Regions from separate parts of the Homo sapiens genome. Here regions 1, 2, 3, 4 and 6 are each linked to region 5. Evidence: fine-mapped expression QTL. A gene starts in region 5. Each other region holds a variant in brackets. All regions are shown on one strand. Distances are between the middles of the regions. Region 1 overlaps VPS53 (VPS53 subunit of GARP complex). Region 2 overlaps VPS53 (VPS53 subunit of GARP complex). Region 3 overlaps VPS53 (VPS53 subunit of GARP complex). Region 4 overlaps VPS53 (VPS53 subunit of GARP complex). Region 5 holds the start of VPS53 (VPS53 subunit of GARP complex). Region 6 overlaps DOC2B (double C2 domain beta).

Evidence for each region.
Region 1: its variant is fine-mapped to the expression of VPS53 in sun-exposed skin (GTEx, PIP 0.96). The same link has a PIP of 0.9 or more in spleen.
Region 2: its variant is fine-mapped to the expression of VPS53 in Th17 cells (Schmiedel 2018, PIP 0.95).
Region 3: its variant is fine-mapped to the expression of VPS53 in whole blood (INTERVAL, PIP above 0.99).
Region 4: its variant is fine-mapped to the expression of VPS53 in whole blood (TOPMed, PIP above 0.99).
Region 6: its variant is fine-mapped to the expression of VPS53 in fibroblasts (GTEx, PIP 0.90).

The regions. Positions count from the first base shown.
Region 1 is chr17:504,788-508,949 of GRCh38, reverse strand. VPS53 (VPS53 subunit of GARP complex) reads left to right here. Exons shown (of 22, transcript NM_001128159.3): 22 at 1-282. Among named protein-coding and RNA genes, the nearest start is that of VPS53-AS1, 16 kb to the left of the region's middle. The variant G/T (reference allele first, on the strand shown) is at 1,739.
Region 2 is chr17:528,136-532,135 of GRCh38, reverse strand. The region is part of intron 19 of VPS53 (VPS53 subunit of GARP complex); the gene reads left to right. The region is part of intron 1 of VPS53-AS1 (VPS53 antisense RNA 1); the gene reads right to left. Among named protein-coding and RNA genes, the nearest start is that of VPS53-AS1, 7.4 kb to the right of the region's middle. The variant AG/G (reference allele first, on the strand shown) is at 1,992.
Region 3 is chr17:557,645-561,644 of GRCh38, reverse strand. VPS53 (VPS53 subunit of GARP complex) reads left to right here. Exons shown (of 22, transcript NM_001128159.3): 15 at 1,072-1,219. Among named protein-coding and RNA genes, the nearest start is that of VPS53-AS1, 37 kb to the right of the region's middle. RefSeq lists a silencer at 380-429 and an enhancer at 445-1,644. The variant G/A (reference allele first, on the strand shown) is at 1,842.
Region 4 is chr17:522,835-526,834 of GRCh38, reverse strand. The region is part of intron 19 of VPS53 (VPS53 subunit of GARP complex); the gene reads left to right. It overlaps VPS53-AS1 (VPS53 antisense RNA 1), which reads right to left. Exons shown (of 3, transcript XR_007065570.1): 1 at 3,406-4,000. Among named protein-coding and RNA genes, the nearest start is that of VPS53-AS1, 2.1 kb to the right of the region's middle. The variant C/T (reference allele first, on the strand shown) is at 2,065.
Region 5 is chr17:713,304-717,303 of GRCh38, reverse strand. VPS53 (VPS53 subunit of GARP complex) reads left to right here and starts at 2,465. Exons shown (of 22, transcript NM_001128159.3): 1 at 2,465-2,681. The coding sequence starts at 2,595. RefSeq lists an enhancer at 1,924-1,993.
Region 6 is chr17:156,274-160,448 of GRCh38, reverse strand. DOC2B (double C2 domain beta) reads left to right here. Exons shown (of 9, transcript NM_003585.5): 6 at 4,072-4,175. Among named protein-coding and RNA genes, the nearest start is that of SCGB1C2, 21 kb to the right of the region's middle. The variant A/G (reference allele first, on the strand shown) is at 1,693.

The DNA.
Region 1 (4,162 bases), 210 kb after region 5:
GATAAAAGTATTTTATGAATACATTTTATGAGTTCAAATATTTTTCAGAAGAAATCAGTAAAAGCATTGAAAACTATTCCAGCAAATAGGAAGCACTTTAAACCAAGGTTATGGATGAAAATGTGTGTGTATCAACCCCAGTTTACTTCTGGGTTGCACAGAATAGAGAAATCTTGATTTAATCCAGCTAAGAATTTTCAAATAGTATCCATTTTGTTTTGTTTTAAACAGCTCTTCTTGCAATGGTAGAGGCTCTTCAATTAAACAGAGATGGTAACAGGCTCCTTGTCTCCTGAAGTCTTCATGGCCGTGAACAGCCCTTGGAGAAAGAGGTTAACAGAAGCAAGGGCCTCCGACATCTTACATTTGCCCCCAGAAGACATTTGAGGATGCGCGTTGCGTTATTACCATTTTTAATGTTTAGTTTTTAGAACTAAAACTAAATGCATTTTAAAAGTGAAGTTAGAATCAAACCTTTGTAGAGGTTCTCACTCCACCAAAACATCACTGAAGATTTCCAGGTTTCCCCAGGTGTCTGTTTGGAAGCTGCTGCCCTCATTGACGCACGTTGCTCATTGTTTTTCTGACCTTAGAGGGGAGGTCAGGCTTGGCACTGTCACCTAGTACAGGAAAGGGCACCGTTTGACTTGAGGTAGCCACCCATTCAACAATAGCACCTAAACTCTCTCCCAAATTCTGTGCAAATACAGGTTGAGCATCCCTAATCTGAGATGCTTGGGCCCAGGAGTGTTTTGGAGTTCAGCTTTTTTTTGATTTTGGAATATGTGTATTATGTACATGCCACTTCAGCATCCCTAATTGGAAAATCCCAAATCCAAATCGCTTCAGTGAGCACTTCCTTTGGGTGTCATGTCAGCACTCAAAATATTTTGGATTTTGGAGCATTTTGTATTTCGGATGCTCGACCCATAAGGCTGTGGGGCACAACTGAGACGAGGCCTTGTGGCCTTTGGAAAGAACATCTGAGAACCCTCTGAGTAACCCCTGGTGCAAGGGAGACAGTACTAAGAACAAAGCAGTGTCACTGGGATGGAGAAGGGGCTTGGTCAGAGGGAGGTGGGCGATCAGAAGAACCCAATCCTTCCAAAAGCCCCAAATCTTGTGCTTGAGACCTCGCATGACTGTGTAGGCAATGCTTCCCGACCTTTTCAGGACTTGAAACAGAAGTGACGACATGAGTAACTCCTCTTCCCTCAACAGAAGAGGCTGCTGGGGCCGGAAGTGATGGGCCTGGGGACACCTCCCTCCCTCCACAGCCCCAAGGCTAAAGGGATCAGTATCTGGCCATTTGCTGGATACCTTTGCGGTGGCCCCAGCATTCCAGTTGGGAAACTCAGAATTGGGGCATGAAGGTTGGAATTAGAGCATCGGGGTTGGGTGGTGTGTTTGTTTCCGTGTTGGGAACTTTGTCAAAGTCCCTCCATTTGTAGATGGGATGCTGAGATCTCAAGAGGTTTAATCACTGGCTTACTCCCCGCCATAGAAGAGGAGCGGCAAAAGCTAAGCCACTTGTGTACATGCCACTCTCAATATCCTGCTCTCAACTCACCACACCACTTTCCCTAGCTGTCCAGTCCTGGGGTCTGTCCTTTGCCCCACCCAGGTCTTCAGAGACTGTCCCCTTTCACCCTCTGCTTGCAGAAGTGAACAGGGGTCCCCCTGCTTTTCCTGATGCCACTCCCCCCCACAGCCTGTCGGTTTTGTTAGTGCGTCAAGG[G/T]AGTCCACTGCCCCCATCCCCACATGCATTCCTGCCGAGCAAGTCAGCTTCCATCTCAAGCACTGTCCTGACCCCGCTCTTGAGGGTCACCGGTGCTCTTCTAGAAAGTCAGCTTCCATCTCAACCACTGTCCTGACCCCGCTCTTGAGGGTCACCGGTGCTCTTCTAGAAAGTCAGCTTCCATCTCAACCACTGTCCTGACCCTGCTCTCGAAGGTCACCAATGCTCTTCTACAAAGTCAGCTTCCATCTCAACCACTGTCCTGACCCCGCTCTCAAAGGTCACCGGTGCTCTTCTAGAAAGTCAGCTTCCATCTCAACCGCTGTCCTGACCCTGCTTTCGAAGGTCACCAATGCTCTTCTAGAAAGTCAGCTTCCATCTCAACCACCGTCCTGACCCTGCTCTCGAAGGTCACCAATGCTCTTCTAGAAAGTCAGCTTCCATCTCAACCGCTGTCCTGACCCTGCTCTCGAAGGTCACCAATGCTCTTCTAGAAAGTCAGCTTCCATCTCAACCGCTGTCCTGACCCTGATCTCGAAGGTCACCAATGCTCTTCTACAAAGTCAGCTTCCATCTCAACCACTGTCCTGACCCCGCTCTTGAGGGTCACCGGTGCTCTTCTAGAAAGTCAGCTTCCATCTCAACCGCTGTCCTGACCCTGATCTTGAAGGTCACCAATGCTCTTCTACAAAGTCAGCTTCCATCTCAACCACTGTCCTGACCCCGCTCTTGAGGGTCACCGGTGCTCTTCTAGAAAGTCAGCTTCCATCTCAACCACTGTCCTGACCCCGCTCTTGAGGGTCACCGGTGCTCTTCTAGAAAGTCAGCTTCCATCTCAACCACTGTCCTGACCCTGCTCTCGAAGGTCACCAATGCTCTTCTACAAAGTCAGCTTCCATCTCAACCACTGTCCTGACCCCGCTCTCAAAGGTCACCGGTGCTCTTCTAGAAAGTCAGCTTCCATCTCAACCGCTGTCCTGACCCTGCTCTCGAAGGTCACCAATGCTCTTCTAGAAAGTCAGCTTCCATCTCAACCACCGTCCTGACCCTGCTCTCGAAGGTCACCAATGCTCTTCTAGAAAGTCAGCTTCCATCTCAACCGCTGTCCTGACCCTGCTCTCGAAGGTCACCAATGCTCTTCTAGAAAGTCAGCTTCCATCTCAACCGCTGTCCTGACCCTGATCTCGAAGGTCACCAATGCTCTTCTACAAAGTCAGCTTCCATCTCAACCACTGTCCTGACCCCGCTCTTGAGGGTCACCGGTGCTCTTCTAGAAAGTCAGCTTCCATCTCAACCGCTGTCCTGACCCTGATCTTGAAGGTCACCAATGCTCTTCTACAAAGTCAGCTTCCATCTCAACCACTGTCCTGACCCCGCTCTTGAGGGTCACCGGTGCTCTTCTAGAAAGTCAGCTTCCATCTCAACCGCTGTCCTGACCCTGCTCTCGAAGGTCACCAATGCTCTTCTAGAAAGTCAGCTTCCATCTCAACCGCTGTCCTGACCCTGATCTCGAAGGTCACCAATGCTCTTCTACAAAGTCAGCTTCCATCTCAACCACTGTCCTGACCCCGCTCTCGAGGGTCACCGGTGCTCTTCTAGAAAGTCAGCTTCCATCTCAACCGCTGTCCTGACCCTGCTCTCGAAGGTCACCAATGCTCTTCTAGAAAGTCAGCTTCTATCTCAACCGCTGTCCTGACCCTGATCTCGAAGGTCACCAATGCTCTTCTACAAAGTCAGCTTCCATCTCAACCACTGTCCTGACCCCGCTCTCGAGGGTCACCGGTGCTCTTCTAGAAAGTCAGCTTCCATCTCAACCGCTGTCCTGACCCTGATCTCGAAGGTCACCAATGCTCTTCTACAAAGTCAGCTTCCATCTCAACCGCTGTCCTGACCTTGCTCTCGAGGGTCACCGGTGCTCTTCTAGAAAGTCAGCTTCCATCTCAACCACTGCCCTGACCCTGATCTCGAAGGTCATCAATGCTCTTCTACAAAGTCAGCTTCCATCTCAACCGCTGTCCTGACCCTGATCTCGAAGGTCACCGGTGCTCTTCTAGAAAGTCAGCTTCCATCTCAACCACTGTCCTGACCCTGCTCTCGAGGGTCACCGGTGCTCTTCTAGAAAGTCAGCTTCCATCTCAACCGCTGTCCTGACCCTGCTCTCGAAGGTCACCAATGCTCTTCTACAAAGTCAGCTTCCATCTCAACCACTGTCCTGACCCTGCTCTCCAAGGTCACCGATGCCCTTCTAGAAAGTCAGCTTCCATCTCAACCACTGTCCTGACCCTGCTCTCAAAGGTCACCGATGCCCTTCTAGCCTGACTCACATCTGTCTTGACCCTTCTCTGGAAGGTCACCGATGCCCTTCTAGCCTGACTCACATCTGTCTTGACCCTTCTCTGGAAGGTCACCGATGCCCTTCTAGCC
Region 2 (4,000 bases), 190 kb after region 5:
CTCTACTAATAATACAAAAAATTAGCCGGGCGTGATGGTGGGCGCCTGTAATCCCAGCTACTCGGGAGGCTGAGGCAGAATTGCTTCAACCCAGGAGGTGGAGGTTGCAGTGAGCTGAGATCACACCACTGTACTCCAGCCTGGGCAACAAGAGCGAAACTCCATCTCAAAAAAAAAAAAAAAAAAAAAACAATTAGCCAGGCGTGGTGGTGCATGCCTGTAATCCCAGCTACTTGGGAGGCTGAGACAGGAGAATCACTTGCAGGTGGAGGTGGAGGTTGCAGTGAGCTCAGATCACGCCACTGCTCTCCAGCCTGGGCAACAGAGTGAGACTCCATCTCAAAAAAAAAAAAAAAAAAAAAGAATAAATCCCAGTGATGGGAGGCTGAGATGGGAGGATCACTAGAGGCCAGGAGTTCAAGACCAGCCTGGGCAACATAGTGCAACCCTATCTCTCAAAAAAAATAAAACATTAGCTAAAAAACGGTCCACACCTGTAGTCCCAGCTGCTCAGGAGGAGGCTGAAGTCGGAGGATTCTTTGAATCCAGGCTGAAGTGAGCTATGATCGTGCCGCTGCACTGAAGCCTGGGCAACAGAGTAAGACACCATCTGCCCCACAAAAAAAAAAAGAGTCTTTTAATGATTATAGTAAGCTCAGACCCAAAGCCAATATCTTCAGAAAAATATCAGTTCATCCAGTGCTTACATCCATTATTGTTATTATTTTTTAACAAACCCACAGCCAACATCCTATGTTTACTTCCGTTTTGAGGTGTGGATGAGAAAACCATCTGCTGGAACTGGAGTTTTACTTAATCAGACCCCAGGCCAGTTCAGGTGGGCAGTAGGGGAGTGTGGATCTTGACAGGCCCAGAATGGGGAGGGTGTGGGTGGGAACTACAGGGCAACGTGGCCCCTGAACGATTCTCACATGAGTTGAGGTTTGGCTGGGCCTGTACTTGCCCTGATGTCTGGGCCTTGAAACTCAAGCAGCCATGTAGCTGCAGGCGTGTTCACTCAGGCAGCAGAACCATCAGAATCAAGTTAACTCAGCAGTGTTCATAGACTGAAACAGACGCTGCCTCCAGTAGTGGAGCAGCTGCCATCCAAACTTGAACAAAAGCTATGGCATTGGAAGCTAAGATTTAGCCCAACCTCAGCTGTGTCTGCCTTGCCACAAGGGTGCCAGATCCTAAATTAGGTTTTGCTTTAATACTTATGCTGAAAATGGGATGGGAGACATTTTTCTGCTCTTTGTTCTCTGAGTACTATATAAAGTGAGTTCTTTATCTTTGGGCCCCAGAGTCCTCGAGCAATTGCAAGGGCACGTGGAACTGACCCACACCAATATTGATCATGCTTCTTGCTAGTTTATGATCTTCAGATCATCCTGTTTTGCAGGGTCACTAATTATTCTTATGACTGCGTTCACCTATGAAAGCTTTTCTTTCCCTTGAGATTAAGGATAAGAGGAGAATGTCCGCTGTCACCATTTCTATCCCACGTTGTTGTTGAAGTCCTGGCTAGGACAACAAGGCAAAAAATACAATATTTTTAAAAGAAACAAAATATATACAGATTAGAAAGGAGGAAACTAAGCTGTCATTTTTCATGGAAAATATGATTATGAGTAATAAATCTAAAAGGATCTACAGATAAACTGTTAGAATATAAATTTAGCAGGCCGGGTGCAGTGGCTTACACCCTTAATCCCAACACTTTGGGAGGCCGAGGCGGGCGGATCACAAGGTCAAGAGTTAAAGACCAGCCTGACCAACACAGTGAAACCCCCGTCTCTACTAAAAATACAAAAATTAGCTGGGCAAGGTGTGGTGCGCCTGTAATCCCAGCTGCTCGAGAGGCTGAGGCAGGAGAATTGCTTGAACCTGGGAGAACTGCTTGAACCTGGGAGGTTGCAGTGAGCTGAGATTGCGCCACTGCACTCCAGCCTGAGTGATAGAGACTCCGTCTCAAAAAAAAAAAAAAAAAA[AG/G]AATATAAATTTAGCAAGGTTGCTGGCTATAAGGAAAGTGTTTTAAAATATATTTCTATATACCAGCAGCAAACAATTTAAAAATGAACATTTTTGAGTGAAATACTTTTTTTTTTTGCTGTATTGCCCAGGCTGGAGTGAGTACAGTGGCACAATCATAGCTCACTGCAGTCTCAATTCGTGGGCTCAAGCCATCCTCCTGCCTCAACTTCTCAAGTATCTGGGACTACAGGAATGTACTACCATGCCTGGCTGGCTCTTTTTTTTTTTTTTTGGTAGATATAGGGTCTGCCTCCCTGTGTCTCCCAGGCTGGTCTCAAACTCCACCCTCCTCAGCCTCCCAAAGTGGTGCGATTACAGGCGTGAGCCATGGCTCCCAGGCCTAAATGAAATCATTTACAATAACATCAGGAAACATTAAATACCTAGGAGTAAATTAAAAATGTACAAGTCTTCTACACAGAAAACTGTACAATATTAAGACACAGAATCCATAAAGACCTTTAAAATGACAGGATAGCTCATGTTCATTGATAAGAAAGACTCAAAAAGAAATACATATGGAGTCTTTCTGAGCCTGCTCTGGCTGAGGAGGCTGCCCAATAAAAAATAAATAACAATTTAAAAAGCGGCAAATTATTCCAAAATTAATCTATAGATAGAATTCAATCCTAATTACTGTATCAATTTATCTATAGATACAGTAGAATCCCAGCAGGGGTGTGTGTGTGTGTGTGTGTGTGTGAGTGTGTGTGTGTGAATTGATATGCTGATTTTAAAAGTTAGATGAAAATACAGAAGACAACAGCCAAAATAATCTTAGAACAGAATTGGAGGAGTTAAAGCTCAGGATATCAAGACTTATTGCAGCAGTATTGTAATTAGAGCAGTGTGGCACTGGCCCCAGGGACAAAGAGGCCAACAGAACAGATCTGAGCTGAGGGATAGACCCACACATGTGTAGATACTTGATTTATGACCAAAGTGGCATCATTCAAAGAGAGTCTTTTCAGTAAATAGTGCTGGGTAATTGGATATCCATATCGGAAAAAAATCTTGACCTTTGCCACACACCATATATAAAAATCAATTCCAAAGAGGATTTGGTGAAATTAGAACACTCATACATTGCTGGTGGTAATGCAAAACGGTACAGCCATTTTGGAAAACAGTTTGGCATTTACATAGAGTTACCACAGGGCCCAGCAATTATACTCCTAGATATATACCCAAATGAATTGAAAAAGGCAGGGTGCATGGTTCACACCTGTAATCCCAGCACTTTGGGAGGCTGAGGCAGGCAGATCACCTGAGGTCAGGAGTTCGAGACCAGCCTGGCCAACATGGTGAAAACCCACTTCTACTAAAAATACAAAAATTAGCTGTACATGGTGGTGTGCACCTGTAACTCCAGCTACTCGGGAAGCTGAGGCAGGAGAATCACTTGAACCTGGGAGGCAGAGATTGCAGTGAGCCAAGATTGCGCCACTGTACCTTCAGGCTGGGTGACAGGGTGAGACTCTGTCTCAAAAAAAAAAAAAAAAAAAAGAATTGAAAAAAAAATGTGTTCACACAAAAGCTTGTACACAAATATTCATAGCAGCACCATTTATAATAGCCAGAAAGTAGAAACAACTCAAATGTCCATCAGCTGATGATAAACAAAATGTGGTCTATCCATACAAGGGAATATTACTCAGCCATTAAAAGGAATAAAGTACCCATTCATGCTACAACATGGAAGAGCCTTGAAACCATGTTAAGTGAAAGAAGCCAGACACAAAAAGCCACCTATTGTGTGACTCTGCTTCTGTGAAATGTCCAGAACAGGCAAATCCGTAAAACAGAAAGTGGATTAATGGTTGGCAAAGGCTGAGGGAGGGGGAGATGGGAATGGCTGCTAATGGGTAAGGGTTTCTTTCTGGGGTGATAATGTGTTCTGAAACCAGATAATGCTGACAGCTGTACAACCTTGTGAATAGACCTTAAAAACCACTGAATTGTACAC
Region 3 (4,000 bases), 160 kb after region 5:
AAATAAATAAATAAATAAATAAATTATGTATAATCCCACTACCCAAAGAGAACGTAACTTTTTGTATATATTTTTCCGTTCTTGATAGATACCTAATGTGTGTGATCTGTGTGCTTTTGTTTGTTTGTGTCACGGAATTGGGGCTATACTGCTTATAGCTTTATTCCCTGCAGCTACCGTTTAACTTCATCGTGGGAGCATTTTCCCACGTGTATTAGTCAGCATCTCAGCAGAAAAAAATGGCATACTCAGCTGGGATTATGTCAGTAGAGAGACTGTTCACAGAAGTGGGGGCAAGGTGAAAGGAGCCAACAGAGGATTCCAAAGCATCCAGATATGAGTGGGTAGTGGTTACTACCATAGAACTCACTCAGTAGCTGGGGCTGCCCCAAAACCTGTAGTCACAGGAGGATGTGTGATGGGTGTTGGCCTCTTGAGACACTTAGGGCCTTGGGCAGGAAGCATGTCTTAACATTCGCTTATGTCCTCCTCCACAAGCACACATGAGTCCCCTTGCAGACTTCTCTTAACATTCGCTTATATCCTCCTCCACCAGCACACACGAGTCCCAGTGCAGACTTTTCTTAACATTCACTTATGTCCTCCTCCACAAACACACATGAGTTCCAGTGCAGACTTCTCTTAACATGCGCTTATGTCCTCCTCCACCAGCACACATGAGTCCCAGTGCAGACTTTTCTTAACTGAAAGAAACAGGGTAGGTAACCATCTTTCGTGCTCCACACGGTCCTAAATGAGTTCTGCACATCAGGAGATTCCAAGCTAAAGAGAGGACAGCTCAGCAGCCTTCCCTTTGGATATTAGACCATCCTAGTTAATGTGACTAATGGCCTGCTGATGATTCAGATTAACTAAAATAGGAATCATCTCTTCCTATTTCTGACGGTGTCAAGGTAAGGTCAGTAGGAAAAGGACTCATTGTATGTGAATTGATTTGGGCCATGTCCAGCCTTTACTTCCCCCTTTTCTGTATCTTAAAATAATGTAGTTTCCAGTTCAGGAAGCAAATTAGAAATTCCATGCTGACTTGTTCCTGTTCCTTTTCTTCAGAACCACAACCAGCAGTGGAGGACTGACTATCAGCAGCCTCCTCAAGGAAAAGGAGGGCTCAGAAGTAGCCAAGTTCACTCTGGAGGAGCTCTGCCTCATCTGTAACATCCTGAGCACGGCAGAGTACTGTCTGGCCACCACCCAGCAGGTGAGCCATCCTGGCTGCCCACTCACCACCTCCTTTTCCTGAACCCTCTGGGCTGCGTCGCTCGGCGAGTAAGAATATACGTCCTAACATGGCCACAGACAACCTTGGGTCAGACCAGTTGGCCTGCCACAGAGGAAAGCTCAGTGTCCAGCCATAAGGCTGCCCAGGCAGCTGTCTTACAGAAAGGCCTTGTTAAAAGAAGACTGGGCAAGAAAGTATGACTGGTCACCTCCCTGGAGTTGTGTAAGCTCCTCAAAGGGCATGACCTGTTAAAAGTAGGTCAGTAGCACTCCAACCCATATGAGAAAAGCAGTAACAAGCTTGTCTGTGCTAGGACCCAGCCTTTGGTGATGATGAGTCACAGCCAGTTATTCCATGCTCAGAAGTGTTACTAAGTTAAGCAGAATCCTTTGGGCTTTTATGTGTCTTCTGAAATTTACATGGCATTTTCAATCTGCCTCAACAAATAGCCATTGTTTGGGATGCTGACGTTTAGGAACTGGGGGACAGGAAAGGGTGATGCCTCTGCTGGAGGCCCCCACATGGCCATAGTTCAGCAACTGATGGAGCAGAAGGAAGACCCAGAATAACCTTTGATTCAGCCTTAAACATGGAATTAGAA[G/A]TCCTTTTCACACTTGGTCTGGGATTCCCCTGAGGCCAAGAGAAAGAAAGTAATTTGGAAAGGTTCTGCTCTTCTACCCACTTTGTATTTATAATTTACAGATGCCTAGACCACAAGAAGACAGTCATAAATGATAGTTCAGACAGCCCAGCTTGGAGCTCCTGTGTGCCAGGGCAGCAATATAGCAGGTCAAATAGGAAGTGTGTCTACCAAGGCCCCTCAGTGGCACATAAGCCAGCCAGAGGCAGAGGCAGCAGCACACTCTGCCTGGGGACCTGGTCATGTTGAGTTGCGAAGGTCATGACCTTCCAGGGTTTGGCCTTGGAGCCACAGAGCAGTCCGTTTAGCCCCAGGCCACTCCCCAGGTAAGATGGCACTATCTGTAAGGACCTCCAAGGCAGGGGTTCCAGAGTTCTTTCATGAAGAAACACTGTTTAACTATTTTGGGTGTGCACAGAAAGAAATACGATACATGTAAATATGCTATTTTAAAGGTAAAATAACCGTAGTATTTAAAAAAATAAAGATCCCTTTTAATCCCATCATCCTCAAATAATCATATTAGCAATTTGGGGTATTTTTTCAATTGTTATTCATAGACATAGTTTTGAATGTTACAATCTTAATTCACTGTTATATCCTTTTATTGTTAGTGTCATACATAGCATTAGCATTTCTCCTGTCATTATAATGATAGTAATAATCATAACTATCATTACAGGGTCATTATTACTATCATTGTTTATGGCCACATAATATTTCTCTTTAAGGGACTATACCATAAATTATTTATTTATTTATTTATTTTGAGACAGAGTCTTGCTCTGTCTTCCAGGCTGGAGTGCAGTGGCCATGATCTTGGCTCATTGCAGCCTCCACCTCCCAGGTTCAAGCAATTCTTCTGCCTCAGCCTCCTGAGTAGCTGGGATTATAGATGCCCATCACCATCCCCGGCTAATTTTTGTATTTTTTTTTTTTTTTTAGTAGAGATGGGGTTTCACCATCTTGGCCAGGCTGATCTCCAACTCTTGACCTTGTGATCCACCTGCCTTGGCCTCCCAAAGTGCTGGGATTACAGGTGTGAGCCCCTGTGCCCGGCCTTGTACCATAACTTATTTAGCAAGCATCCCTGATCGTTGTTTATAGTGCTTCAAATTTTGCTTTTTTTTTGAAACAGAGTCTCTCTCTGTCACCCAGGCTGGAGTGCAGTGGCACGATCTCGGCTCACTGCAAGCTCCCCCTGCCGGGTTCTCGCCATTCTCCTGCCTCAGCCTCGCGAGTAGCTGGGACTACGGGTTCCCATCACCACGCCTGGCTAATTTTTTTTTATTTTTAGTAGAGGCCGGGTTTCACTGTGTTAGCCAGGATAGTCTCGATCTCCTGATCTTGTGATCTGCCCGTCTTGGCCTCCCAAAGTGCTGGGATTACAGACGTGAGCCACTGTGAGTAGCTGGGACTACAGGCACCCGCTACCACACACAGCTAATTTTTTGTATTTTTAGTAGAGACGGGGTTTCACTGTGTTAGCCAGGATGGTCTCAATCTCCTGACCTCGTGATCCACTCACCTTGGCCTTCCAAAGTGCTGGGATTATAGGCGTGAGCCACCATGCCCAGCCAAAATTTTGCTTTTATAGATAATCCTGGCAGGGTACAGTGGCTCACGCCTGTAATCCTAGCATATTGGGAAGCCAAGGTGGAAGGATCGCTTGAGGCCAATAGTCCAAGACCAGCCTGGGTAACATAGTGAGACCTGGTCTTTACAAAAAATTTAAAAGTTAGTTGAGTGTGGTGGTACATGCCTGTGGTCTCAGCTACTTGGGAAGCTGAGGTTGGAGGATCGCTTGAGCCTGGGAGGTCAAAGCTGCAGTGAGCTATGATCACACCACTGCACTCCAGCCTGGGTGACAGAGTGAGACCCTGTCTCTAAAAAAAAAAAAAAAAAAAAAGATAATCCTTACAAAGAATGTCTTTCTGAATATAGCATCTTAAATGTTTTGCATTAGTTTTCTAGAACAGACTCTTAGAAGTTCTAGAAATAAGTTGAAGACCATTTTGATGACTGATGATACAAGTGGCCAATTATTTTTTATTTAGTGAAAATTGTTTTTATTGATTACAAAAGTAATACATTCTTAGCACCTTTATTGTGATCTCTAA
Region 4 (4,000 bases), 190 kb after region 5:
TCCCCAAGAATTGTAGGAGGCTCCTCGGGAAGTAAAGGGCCCCTCTCAAAGATTTCCATTGCTGGGTGATCAGCCTTCACAGGCATGGCATACTGGCCACCCTTGCACCCCCACATCCCATCAACAACATTAGCCAGCCCACACTGCCCCAGAAATTATCGCTGAGGCAGAAATGAATGTGGCAATAGCCACCCCTTGCCCAATGTCTCATGCCTAAGAAGATGAATTATCAACTATTTCAAAGTTGAAAACTAGCAGATTTTCATGATAAATGGGACCTTTCTGTCTTGTCTTTGCACAGACAGCCGCCAAATCTGTCAGGCTCATTCCCGCCTTTTCTGACTGCCTTGCTTTATGTATAAAACCTGAGACCAGGGTTTTCACCTCTCAGTGTCTGGTAAAGACAGAATTTTATGGTGACTGGCCAGGGAATGAAAGTGTCATATCTCCCTGTATATGAGGGACACTAGAGAATTATGCCTGGTGCATTCAAACCCTTCCTGTCATTTAAGACTGTACAATTATTTATGCATATAATGTATCTCTGGGAAGTAGAAAAGTAGGAAATATCTCCATATGCTTTAAAATATAATGACTGATTTTTTTTTTCCTACCAACAAATGAATGCTAAGACATGGCTTTGATTTTGACAAGGCTCTCAAAATTTGCTACATGGAAGACAGAGTTGAGTCCTGAATGGTAGTCTTTAAACAAAAATTCCAGTTAATTAATGTACAGAAAATAATGTAAAAAACAGTAACTAACTACTCAGCTCAGCAAAATATGTAACATGTTTCCACATTTACTTTACATCTTTTTTTTTTTTTTTTTTTTTTTTGAGAAAATGTCTCACCGTGTTGCCCAGTCTGGAGTACAATGGCGCGATCTCGGCTCACTGCAACCTTCACCTCCCGAGTTCAAGCAATTCTCCTGCCTCAGCCTCCCGAGTAGCTGGGATTACAGGTGTGCACCACCATATCTGGCTAATTTTTGTATTTTAGTAGAGATGGGGTCTCACCATGTTGGCCAGGCTGGTCTCAAATTCCTGACCTTAAGTGATCCTCCCACCTCAGCCTCCCAAAGTTCTGGGATTGCAGGCATGAGACACCGCGCCTGGCCCATTTTTTTTTTCTTTTCTTAAGAGACAGGGTCCCACTCTGTCTCCCAGGCTGGGGTGCAATGGTGCCATCATAGCTCACTGCAACCTGGAATTCCTGGGCTTAAGCCATCTTCCCACCTCAGCCTCCTAAGTAGCTGAGACTACAAGTGTGTGCCACTGTGCCTGTCTAATCTTATTATTTTTGTTTTTGTAGAGACAAGGTCTCACTGTGTTGCCCAGGGTAATCTTGAATTCGTAGCCTCAAGTGATCCTTCTGCCTCAGCCTCCCAAAATGCTGGGATTACAGGCATGAGCTGCCACACCCTGCCTGCTTTAGATCATTTTTATGTAAAGTAAATCATTACAGTTATTGCTGAAGACCGCCCCCATGAACCCCACCCTGCCCATCTCTTCCTCCATGCCCCAAAGTAAACACTGTCCTGATTTTGATTTTATTCTCATATGTGTTTTGATATATGTGTATATATTCACAAATGATATATGATTTTGTTTTGCATATTTTAAAACTATATAAATGGCATTAGACATATCATTTCCCCACTTGCTTTTTTTTGCCCAACTTACTATTTTCTGAGATTTATGCATGTTAATGCATGCTGTGTGCACCCATTCATTTTCACCTCAGCAGCATATTCCATTGCACGAATGTGCTGTCATTTGTTTATTCATTCCACTGTCAATGGACGTGTAGGTTGTTTCCAAACTTTTGCTTTTATAAATAGCGGATGCAGGGAACGTTTTTACATGGGCAAGAATTCCTCTAATGGATATAAGTATTAATGCTGTGTTATGGGTGATACACATCTCCAGCTAAGGAAATGTTGCTAAATTTCCCCCAACGTGCTTGAACTAACTTCTACTGTCACCACTAGTCTGAATTTCAGTGTGGCCGTGCCCACACTAGATTATCAACCTGTTTACTTCTGACTCTGATGGGTGTATTA[C/T]GGTGTACATTTGTGAATTTCAGTGCCATGGCCGTGCCCACACTTGATTATCAAATAATCTGTTTACTTCTGACTCTGATGGATGTATTATGGTGTACATCTGTGGTTTTAATTTGCATTTCCCAGTTACTAACCAGGTTGCGTGTCATTTCATATGCCTTTCGGGCATTTGAGTTTCCTCTTTTGTGAATCCGGTGTTAGTATTGTTTGCCTGTTGTTGTGTCGCTGTTGGGATAGTTTGTGCTTTTCCTGTTGATGTGTAGGAATCTTCATGTTCGGAACCCCGTTCCCTTGTCAACGTTGCACGTATCTTCTCCTGATTTATGTCTTGTCTTTTACTTTGTTTGTTTCTTCTGATATAGATGCCTTTCATTTTAGGGTAGGTGGTTCATTCTTTCTGATGTTTGACATTCTTCTCCACCCATAAGCAATGAAAATAATCTCTGTATTTTCTTCTTCTTCTTCTTTTTTATTTTTTATTTTTTATGTATTTATTTTTTTGAGACAGTGTCTTGTTCTGTCACCCAGGCTGTAGCGCAAACCTCCCAGGTTCAAGCAATTCTCCTGCCTCAGCCTCCCGAGTAGCTGGGATTACAGGCATGCGCCACCACACCCGGCTAATTTTTGTATTTTTAGTAGAGATGGGGTTTCTCCATGTTGGCCAGGCTGGTCTCGAACTCCTGACCTCAGATGATCCACCCGCCTCGGCCTCCCAAAATGCTGGGATTACAGGCATGAGCCACTGCGCCCTGTATTTTCTTCTTAAAGTTTTTCTTTTTTATATCTAAGAATTTAATCCACCTAGAATGCTTTAGAGGCTTGTTCTGGGTTCCTCCGAGGAAAAGCAGCAGTCATTTCCACTGGAATTCTGGAAAGTGCGCTAACGCCAGGCTCTTCACGTGGGCCTTGAGCAATCAGTGCCATTCCCCCTCCTGGAGGTTTGCATACCCTTTTCTCTGAGCCCTTGGCCTTTTCAACAAAGCAGACACTAGGATAGTAAGAATTTCTATCTCTAGAAATCCAGAAAGGTCCAAAATGCCCTGCACTTTGCTGGCTACAGTTGAATGACCTGCGTGGTGCAGGCCTTTGACTAGCTGCATGAAATTGCTCTGACCTTAGTGTAATTCCTTACCACACCTAAATTATTCCACATAAAACACTGACGTCTTCCCCATGTTTCTACCATTGTTAAAATTACAATTGCCATAACCCTTAAGTTCATAGTATCTGTCGTTACTTAGTTTCTCTTTAATCATTAATTCTTCTGTCCAAAGCAAAGTAAATAGGAAATTGGAGGATGCAAAGTGTCGCAGGGCCTGAAGGGTCCCATTTCTCACCTACCTGATAGGATTACAGAAGGCTTTCCCAAAGAAGCAGGCAGTGGCAGAGAGTACAGGCCTTGCCCTGAATATAAGTTTGGCCGTTATCACCGGAGTTGAGTGGTGGCATTGGGAGCTGTCACCCCACTGCTGCCGTTGTCTGCTTGGTGACCATGTGGTTCCATTCTCCTAAGCCATCTCAACAGGCCAGAGTACACCCTTCTGTCTTCAGCCATTTCTCTGCTCCCTGGTTGCCAAGAGCAGCGGCGGCAGCAGAGCAGGGCAGTCAGCAGGAGTCAGTGTGAGCTCGTCACCAAAACCACCCAGGGACATTTACCTGGGCAACCGGAAATGGAATTCCAGCTTCCCTTCCACCTTTTGTCTAACCCCGTTACCTGGGCAACCGGAAATGGAATTCCAGCTTCCAGTCCACCTTTTCTCTAACCCCGTTACCTGGCAACCGGAAATGAATTCCAGCTTCCCGTCCAACTTTTGTCTAACCCCGTCCGTTGCATGAGATGAGTTTGGTGAGCTGTTAATCCTCTGGAACTTTTTCTCATCTGTAAAATGGGAACAATAAATAACATCCAGGGTAGGTAAGGCTTTACTCAGATTAA
Region 5 (4,000 bases):
CTGGGTGATAGAGCGAGACTCCGTCTCAAAAAAACAAAAACAAAAACAAAAACTATAGGGACAGAAATCAAGTCAGTGGTTGCCAGTGGATGGGGTGAGGCAAGAGGGAATTTGGGGGAATGAAATTGTCCTATAACTAGATTGTGGTAGTAGTTACATGGTTATATACATTTATTTATTTTGTTTTATTATTGTTTTCTTATTATTTGTTTGTTTGTTTTGAGATGGAGTCTTGCTCTGTCACCCAGGCTGGAGTGCAATGGTGCAATCTTGGCTCACTGCAACCTCCACCTCTCGGGTTCAAGTGATTCTGTGCACCACCACGGCCAGCTACGTTTTGTATTTTTAGTAGATAGAGACGGGTTTTACCATGTTGGCCAGGCTGGTCTCGAACCCCTGACCTCAAGTGATCTGGCAGCCTCGGCCTCCCCACGTGCTGGGATTATAGGCGTGAGTCACCATGCCCAGTCGTTTATACACATTTATCAAAACTCACTGCATCATAAATTGCAAGAGTAAATTTTACTGTATGTAAATATCTTAATTTTTTAAAGGAAAAAAAAAGTCCAAAATAAGTAGCTATAATTACCTTTTCCTTTTAGAAAAAGGCATTCATATTTTCTGAGCATGAGAGAACTACAGGCTCATTGTAGACATTTGGGAAAATGTACAAAGGATGTACATTCATCACGTGCAGAAAAGTAATATTTCCTTGCTGTGAGCTTTATTGGCACAGAATACACACAAAGCTGGGACCATGCTATGCATTTTTTAAATGAAATTATACATTTTGCTTTCTGAAATATATTGTGCATATTTTTCATGTCATTAATTTTCAAAATCATGATTTTATGAATCAATAATATTCTATGTTTACTTAAGAGACAGAGTCTCCCTTTGTGGCCCAGGCTGGAGTGCAGTGGCGCAAAGGAATCATTCCTCACTGCAGCCTCAAACTCCTGGGCTCAAGCGATCCTCAGTGGTGGGATGAGATCTAGACCCCTGATATTCAATCTCAGAAAGTCAATAATTCCCTGCCTCAGCCTCCTGAGTAGCTGGGGCTGCAGGCCTGTGCCACTGCACCAGGTTCAATGTATATTTTATTTTGTCTTTTTTTTCTTTTTTTAATGTATATTTTTTAGCATTCCTTTGTTGTTAGAAATTACATTGTTTATATAATTATTATTTGTCAATTAAAAATAAAAGAAAAAATCATACTGCTCCTATTTTTTACTTTGAGCAACTCTGATAACAACAACAAAAAAAAGTTCAGTGGGGCCAACGCGTTTCCCTCCTGGAGTTTCCCGGTTCACCTGGTGGAGCGGGTCCTCCTTGGGCTGCAATTCCCTCCTTCTTTTCAGTGTCTGCAGGAAAGGTGGTTTCACAGGGTGATCGGTGATCTGGCTTATTTGTTCCTTTGTGGGGGTAAGGGCTGGGCACCTCACTATTTCCTGTATTACCAGCTTGAATTTACATCGCGCTGTTAATGTTTAATCCTCTCCACATCGACGCGGGGTAGTAATTTGTTCCAAGTCACACAACTTATCAATGGTGGACTATTCAGGACTTAGATCCCGGATATTCAACCTCAGTAAACGTCTCCCCAGCTCCAGGGCGCTGCGTCATCTGGCTTTAAAAAAACGTTTCTGGCCGGGCGCAGTAGCTCACGCCTGTCATCCCAGCACTTTGGGAGGCCGAGGCGGGCGGATCACGAGGTCAAGAGTTCGAGACCAGCCTGGCCAACATGGTGAAACCTCGTCTCCACTAAAAATACAAAAATTAGCTGGGCGTGGTGGCGGGCGCCTGTAATCCCAGCTACTCGGGAGGCTGAGACAGGAGAATCGCTTGAACCCAGCAGGCGGGGTTGCAGTGAGCCGAGATCGCGCCGTTGCACTCCAGCCTGGGCAACAAGTAAGACTCCGTCTCAAAAAAAAAAAAAAAAAAAAAAAAGACGTTTCTCCCCATAAGGAGGCTGCAGTCACCTCGAAAAGCTTCTGCGCAGAGCCCGGCGCACGGGGAATTTCTATCGAGTGGGCACTGTCCCGTCCTACGAATGTCCTTGGCGACATCGCCACTCGCCAGCTGGGATCACGTCGCCCCCGTGGCCGGGGACACCCGCTGCCACTGACCGAGGGGGCCCCGGGAGCTGAGAGGTCGCCGCTGCGCTGCCCGCGGAGGCTGTGGGCTGCGGTTGGCGACGCCGCAGGGCTGACTTTCATCCGGGCGTCCTGCTGGAGGCCAGACCCTACCCCAACCTCGGGGTCCTCAGTGCGGGGCGCGCCTTGGGGAGGGAAGAGGCCCCGCCCATCCTAAGGACGCGCTGAGGCCACGCGGGGCCGCCGGGATACTGCGTTGCCCGGGAGACACCTGACGTGACAGGAACGCCGCCAGTCTCAGTCCGCCGTGATCCCACAGTTCCCCGGTCCCGGAAGTGCCCTGGCCTGCCGGAAGTGCCGGAGCGGCTGACAGAGCGGCTGACGGAGCCGGGCTCACCAGGTCGCTGCCGCGAGGGAGTTGCTGTGCTGGGGCCTGGGTGGCGGCTGGAGGCCTGAGTTGGGCTCGCGGCGGGGGTCGGCAGGGGGCCGGGTGGCGGAATGATGGAGGAGGAGGAACTGGAGTTCGTGGAGGAGCTGGAAGCCGTGCTGCAGCTCACGCCCGAGGTGCAGCTGGCCATCGAGCAGGTAAGCGTTCCGCCCCTCAGGAGGGGAAACGGGAGTGCGGGAGGGGAGACGGCAGCTCCGGGCGCTGGGGAGGCCGCGGCGGGTGGACGGAGGGCCGGGGGCTCGCGGCAGAAGGGAAAGTGGAGGTGGGGAGGTGGTGCGGGTGAGAAGCGGTTTCTGAATCAGAAGGAAAGGAAAGAGAACCCTTTCTAGGCTTTGATTGTCTTTGGCGAGGGCTGGGGGTTCTGGTGGTTTTGGGGAAAGGAATTGTGCGCTTAGAGAGGACGACGCTAGGAGAATGCAGGCCTTGGGTGCCATCCTCAGATTCTGGGGACTGTGGGGGCTTCATGCATTTACCAGACTCGTGCCAACGCCCCGGTTTTGCAAGCTGGCACCTCGTGAGTGGCTTGGAACTGGGGGAAGGGAATGACTTTAATTTCTGAAGCGGACGGCAGAGAAGAGAGAAAGTGTTGAAAAATGACATCGTTACCATTCTTAAAAGGTTGAGAATTCCTACCGTTGAATAGTTTGGGTGAGGTTGGAGAATACTCCCAAGGGGCCTCTTTTCCCTTCAGGAACTTTTTTTTTTTTTTTTTTTTGAGACGGATTCTCGCTCTGTCGCCCGGGCTGGAGTGCAACGGCACGATCTCGGCTCACTGCGACCTCCGCCTCCCGAGTTCAAGCGATTCTCCTGTCTCAGCCTCCTGAGTAGCTGTGATTACAGGCGCACGCCACCACACCCGGCTAATTTTTTTTTTTTTTTGGGGTAAAGACGGGGGTTTCACCGTTTTGGCCAGGATGGTCTCGAACTCCTGAGCTCAAGTAACCCGCCCGCCTTGGCCTCCCAAAGTGCTGGGATTACAGGCGTGAGCCACCACGCGCGGCCCTGCCTGCAGGAACTCTTGCCTTTGCAAGTTTATTGAGTTTTTAAGGCTAATGATATTAGAAATAGTGATTTTTTTCTTTTCTTTTTTTCTTTTTTTTTGTTTTCTGAGACGGAGTCTCGCTCTTTCGCCCAGGTTGGAGTGTAGGGGTGCCATCTCGGCTCACTGCAACCTCCGCTTCCAGGTTCAAGTGATTCTCCTGCCTCAGCCTCCTGAGTAGCTGGGACTACAGGCAACCGCTACCATGCCTAGCTAATTTTTGTATTTTTAGTAGAGACCGGGTTTCACCATGTTGGCCAGGCTGGTCTTGAACTCCTGACCTCAGGCTATCCGCCCGCCTCGGCCTCCCAAAGTGCTGGGATTACAGGTGTGAGCCACTGCACCCGGTCAGAAATAGTGATTTCTAATACTGCAGGGTATTGCTCCTGATAAACGGAGAAAATCTCCCTTAAAGGA
Region 6 (4,175 bases), 560 kb after region 5:
GGGGGCGAGTCAGCCTGAGGCCACGGCTTCTTCCCAGAATCCCAGTTACTTTTGCAGAATTTGATCCAATTTTATTCCTTGTCACATTCTCTCCCCCTCAGACATTTGTGTGATGGATATAACCTTTCCTGTTTTATTGTTAGTCACTAACCACAGGTAACCCGGTTTTTCCACATGGTCTATGTCACTTAAGAAAGGCAACATCTTAGGAGGCCAAGGCAGGTGGGTCATGAGGTCAAGAGTTCGAGAGAGCCTGGCCAACATGGCGAAACCCCGTCTCTGCTAAAAATAAAAAAATTAGCCGGGTGTGGGGGTGCATGCCTGTAATCCCAGCTACTCAGGAGGCTGAGGCAGGAGAATCGCTTGAACCTGAGAGGCGGAGGTTGCAGTGAGCCGAGATTGCACCGTTGCACTCCAGCCTGGGTGACAAGAGCAAGAGCAAGACTCTGTCTCAAAAAAAAAAAAAAAAAGCAACACCAGCCCTGCCTTAGTGTTCCTGAGTTTTCATCACTGGCATAAACAAACAACCACGTGGGTATGTACGTGGGGTGTCAGCGTGTGTGTGTGTGTGCTCGTGTGTGAATTGTGTGTAAGAGCATATGTCAGTACGTGTCTGTGTGCGACAGTGTGTGTGTCCACATGTGTGGTGTGCGTTCGTGAAAGCATGTGCGTCCCTGTGCGTGGCCATGATCAGGGCGTTGCTGGATGCGCTACCGGCCCATTGGTGCCGTTCAGGGACTCACAGTGACCGCAGGAGTGCAGCTGGGGATGCACCCCTGACAGTACAGCCACATTCTGGTGGTACTTTTATTATTATTATTTTTTGAGACTGAGTCTTGCTCTGTCATCCAGGCTGGAGTTCAGTGGCAAAATCTCTGTTCACTGCAACCTCTACCTCCTGAGTTCAAACAATTCTCATGCCTCAGCCTCCCGAGTAGCTGGGACTACAGGCGTGTGCCGCCACGCCTGGTTAATTTTTGTATATTTGGTAGAGATGGGGTTTCACCATATTGTCCAGGTGTCTCAAACTCCTGACCTTGAATGATCCACCTGCCTCAGCCTCCCAAAGTGCTGGGATTACAGGTGTGCGCCACCACGCCTGGCTAATTTTGGTATTTTTAGTAGAGACGGGGGTTCGCCATGTTGGCCAGGCAAGTCTCAAACTCCTGACCTCCAGTGATCCTCCTGCCTCGGCCTCCCAAAGTGCTGGGATTACAGGCATGAGCCCCTGTGCCAGGCCTCTGGCGGTAGGTTTTAGAATTTACAGTCTGCGAACATTATCTGTTTTAAGTCAATACTGAGCAAGACCCAGTGGTCTTCATATGAAACAACCCGAAGTACAATGTCCCACCCCTGAAAAAAGAGCTAAAAATATGCCTGCTGGTTGGTTGTTTTTTTTTTTTTTTTATGAGATGGAGTCTATGTCGCCCAGGCTGGAGTGCAGTGGCGCAATGTCGGCTTACTTCAACCTCCGCCTCCCGGGTTCAAGTGATTCTTCTGCCTCAGCCTCCCAATAGCTGGGATTACAGGCATGCGCCACCACACCCGGCTAATTTTTGTATTTTTAGTAGAGATGGGGTTTCACCATGTTGGCCAGGCTGGTCCTGAGCTGCTGACCTCAGGTGATCTGCCCGCCTTGGCCTCCCAAAGTGCTGGGGTTACAGGCATGAGTCACTGTGCCTGGCCCCTGCT[A/G]GTTTATATTGTTTAATTTTCACACCACACACACTGACACAAGCAGCACAGGGCATCAAGGCCCTCACACACAAAGCTCTGCCTGAGCGGCAGATAGCGAGATCTCGCAGGCCTGGCCTGATCCACCAGGAATGGCTGCCTGAGCACTGTGTTGAAAAGGATTCTGAGGTGGCATTGGAGCCTAGGGCAAATGCTAGGATCGATTAGCCATGTCTGCTCTGGGCGTGGGAGGTGGCGAAGGTGGCTGGTGGGGCATGTATGTCTTCCCTGCTCAACATCCCTGCTCACCTCACAGGAGTCTCATCTCCAGAAAGGGTTAGATGTAGCCAGAGGGACTCACTTTGGTGTTAGGCAGGGCACGGTTGTGGGCAAAAGGAGGTGGCTGGGGCTGCTTGGGAGAGGAGCCTGGTAGAGTCCTAAGGGGATCCAGGGGGACACAGGGCTCAAGCTGGGCGTGTGTGGGTGGGCTCAAGCTGGGTTTGTCTGGGGGGGCTGAGGGCCTAGGAGAGAGGGTTTGGGGTGTGCAGCAGCCAGAAGGAAGAAGCCGGGTAGTCTCGGGAGGGCAAGGAATGGAGAAGCATCAGGCTGGCTGGGGATGGGGAGGCCTGGAGCTGAGATCTGCCTTGAGAGGCAGGCACTGGCAGCTGCTGAGGCAGGGAAGGCACTGGATGGGCTCCCTACTTGGCTCCCAGCTTCTCCAGGGTGAGGAATGTACCAGAACTCTGTCTTCGGGGTTCTCCTGAGGGAGCCACATCCAGCACCCTGAGAGGCTCCAGGTAGCACCTTCAGGGAACTGGGGCCACGGTGACCCTTTTCCATCCACCAGGCTCCATTGTCATGGGCAGACCTTTCTGCCTTTCTTTGAACCTCCAGGCTGGAGTTGCTTGTATGAGGTTGAACGCACAGGGGACCATCTGTCCCTCCATTCCTGCCTTCACTAGTACAAGCCTCCAGTGGGCCCTTAGTGCCAGGGCCTTGCCCAGCCCTGAGGTATTAAAGATGACGCAGGTATTATCTGGATGCGGTGGCTCATACCTGTAATCCCAGCACTTCAGGAGGCTGAGGTGGGTGGATCACTTGAGGTCAGGAATTCGAGACCAGCCTGGCAGACATGGCAAAACCCTGTCTCTACCAAAAAATAGAAAAATTAGACTGTAGTCCCAGCTACTCAGAAGGCTGAGGCAGGAGAATCGCTTAAACCCGGGAGGCAGAGGTTGTAGTGAGCCAAGATCATGCCACTGCACTCCAGCCTGGGTGACAAGAGTCAGACTCTGTCAAAATCAAAATTTACAGGTAGAGTTCCAACTTCAAGGAACTTAGAGGCTGGGGCAGAGCCCTGAGGAAGCAGGGGGCCACACCAGGCCATGACAGGATAAACCCGAGGCAGTGGGCGCGCAGAGGGGACGGCCAACCCACCCTGAGGGTCAGAAAAGCCCCCCAGGCCCAGAAGGACCAGGAATTTATCAACGGTGAACACTGAGGAGGTCAGAGGAGGGTGCTGGAGCTGTGGATTAAGGGTGCGCAAAGGTGTGGAGGTGGGACCCGGCTTCAAAGCCAAGGGAAAGTCCGGGCGGGCTGTGAGGAGGACCTGGTGGAAGACCGTCCGCGGAAGCCGAGCGCGCCAGGCCGGGGGCTGCAGACCCGTGAAGGGCCGCTTAGCGCTAATGTTAGGCTCTGTGTGCCTCGCAATCTGTGGCCACCATGCAGCTCTGTCCTTAGGGCAAAAGCAGCCATAGAGAAGCATCACGGAGCTGGCAAGGCTGCGTTCCAACAACACGGTGTTAATGGAAGCTGAAGTGTGAATTTCATGTCATTTTCATGTGTCACAAAATATTTTTCATTTCATTTTTCTTTCTGCCATTCCAAAAAGTAAGAACCAGCTGGGCACGGTGGCTCATGTCTGTAATCCCAGCACTTTGGGAGGCCAAGGTGGGAAGATCCCTTGAGCCCAGGAGTTTGAGATCAGCCTGGGCAAAATAGTGAGACCCCTGTCTCTATTTTTTTGAAAAAGAAATTGTTTAAGATAAGGGTAAGAGCCATGCTTAGCTCACATCCCACACAGAGCCAGGCGTCGGGCCTGATCTGGCCCCCGGGCTGCAGTTGCCAACCCCTGGGCTGGCCCTTGCTGGGCTGTGAAGGCCACCGTAGGCCACATGCAGCCAAGAACAGGGAGGGTGTGGGTCAGATCCAGCCCTGGAAGAGCCCTTGGGAGGGAAGAGATGACAGAAGGGCTGTGAGTTCACAGTGAGGCCACTCACCAGGGACCGTGACCAGGCCCGGCTGCAGCAGCCGGATGGGCGGGCTCAGGAAGAGGAGGCCAAGGACGGCCAAGAGAGGGGTGGGAGCAGGTGAGGACTGAGTGACCGTCCCGTCCAACAGGTGGACAAGACTGAAGACAAGTCCCTGGAGGAGCGGGGCCGCATCCTCATCTCCCTCAAGTACAGCTCACAGAAGCAAGGCCTGCTGGTAGGCATCGTGCGGTG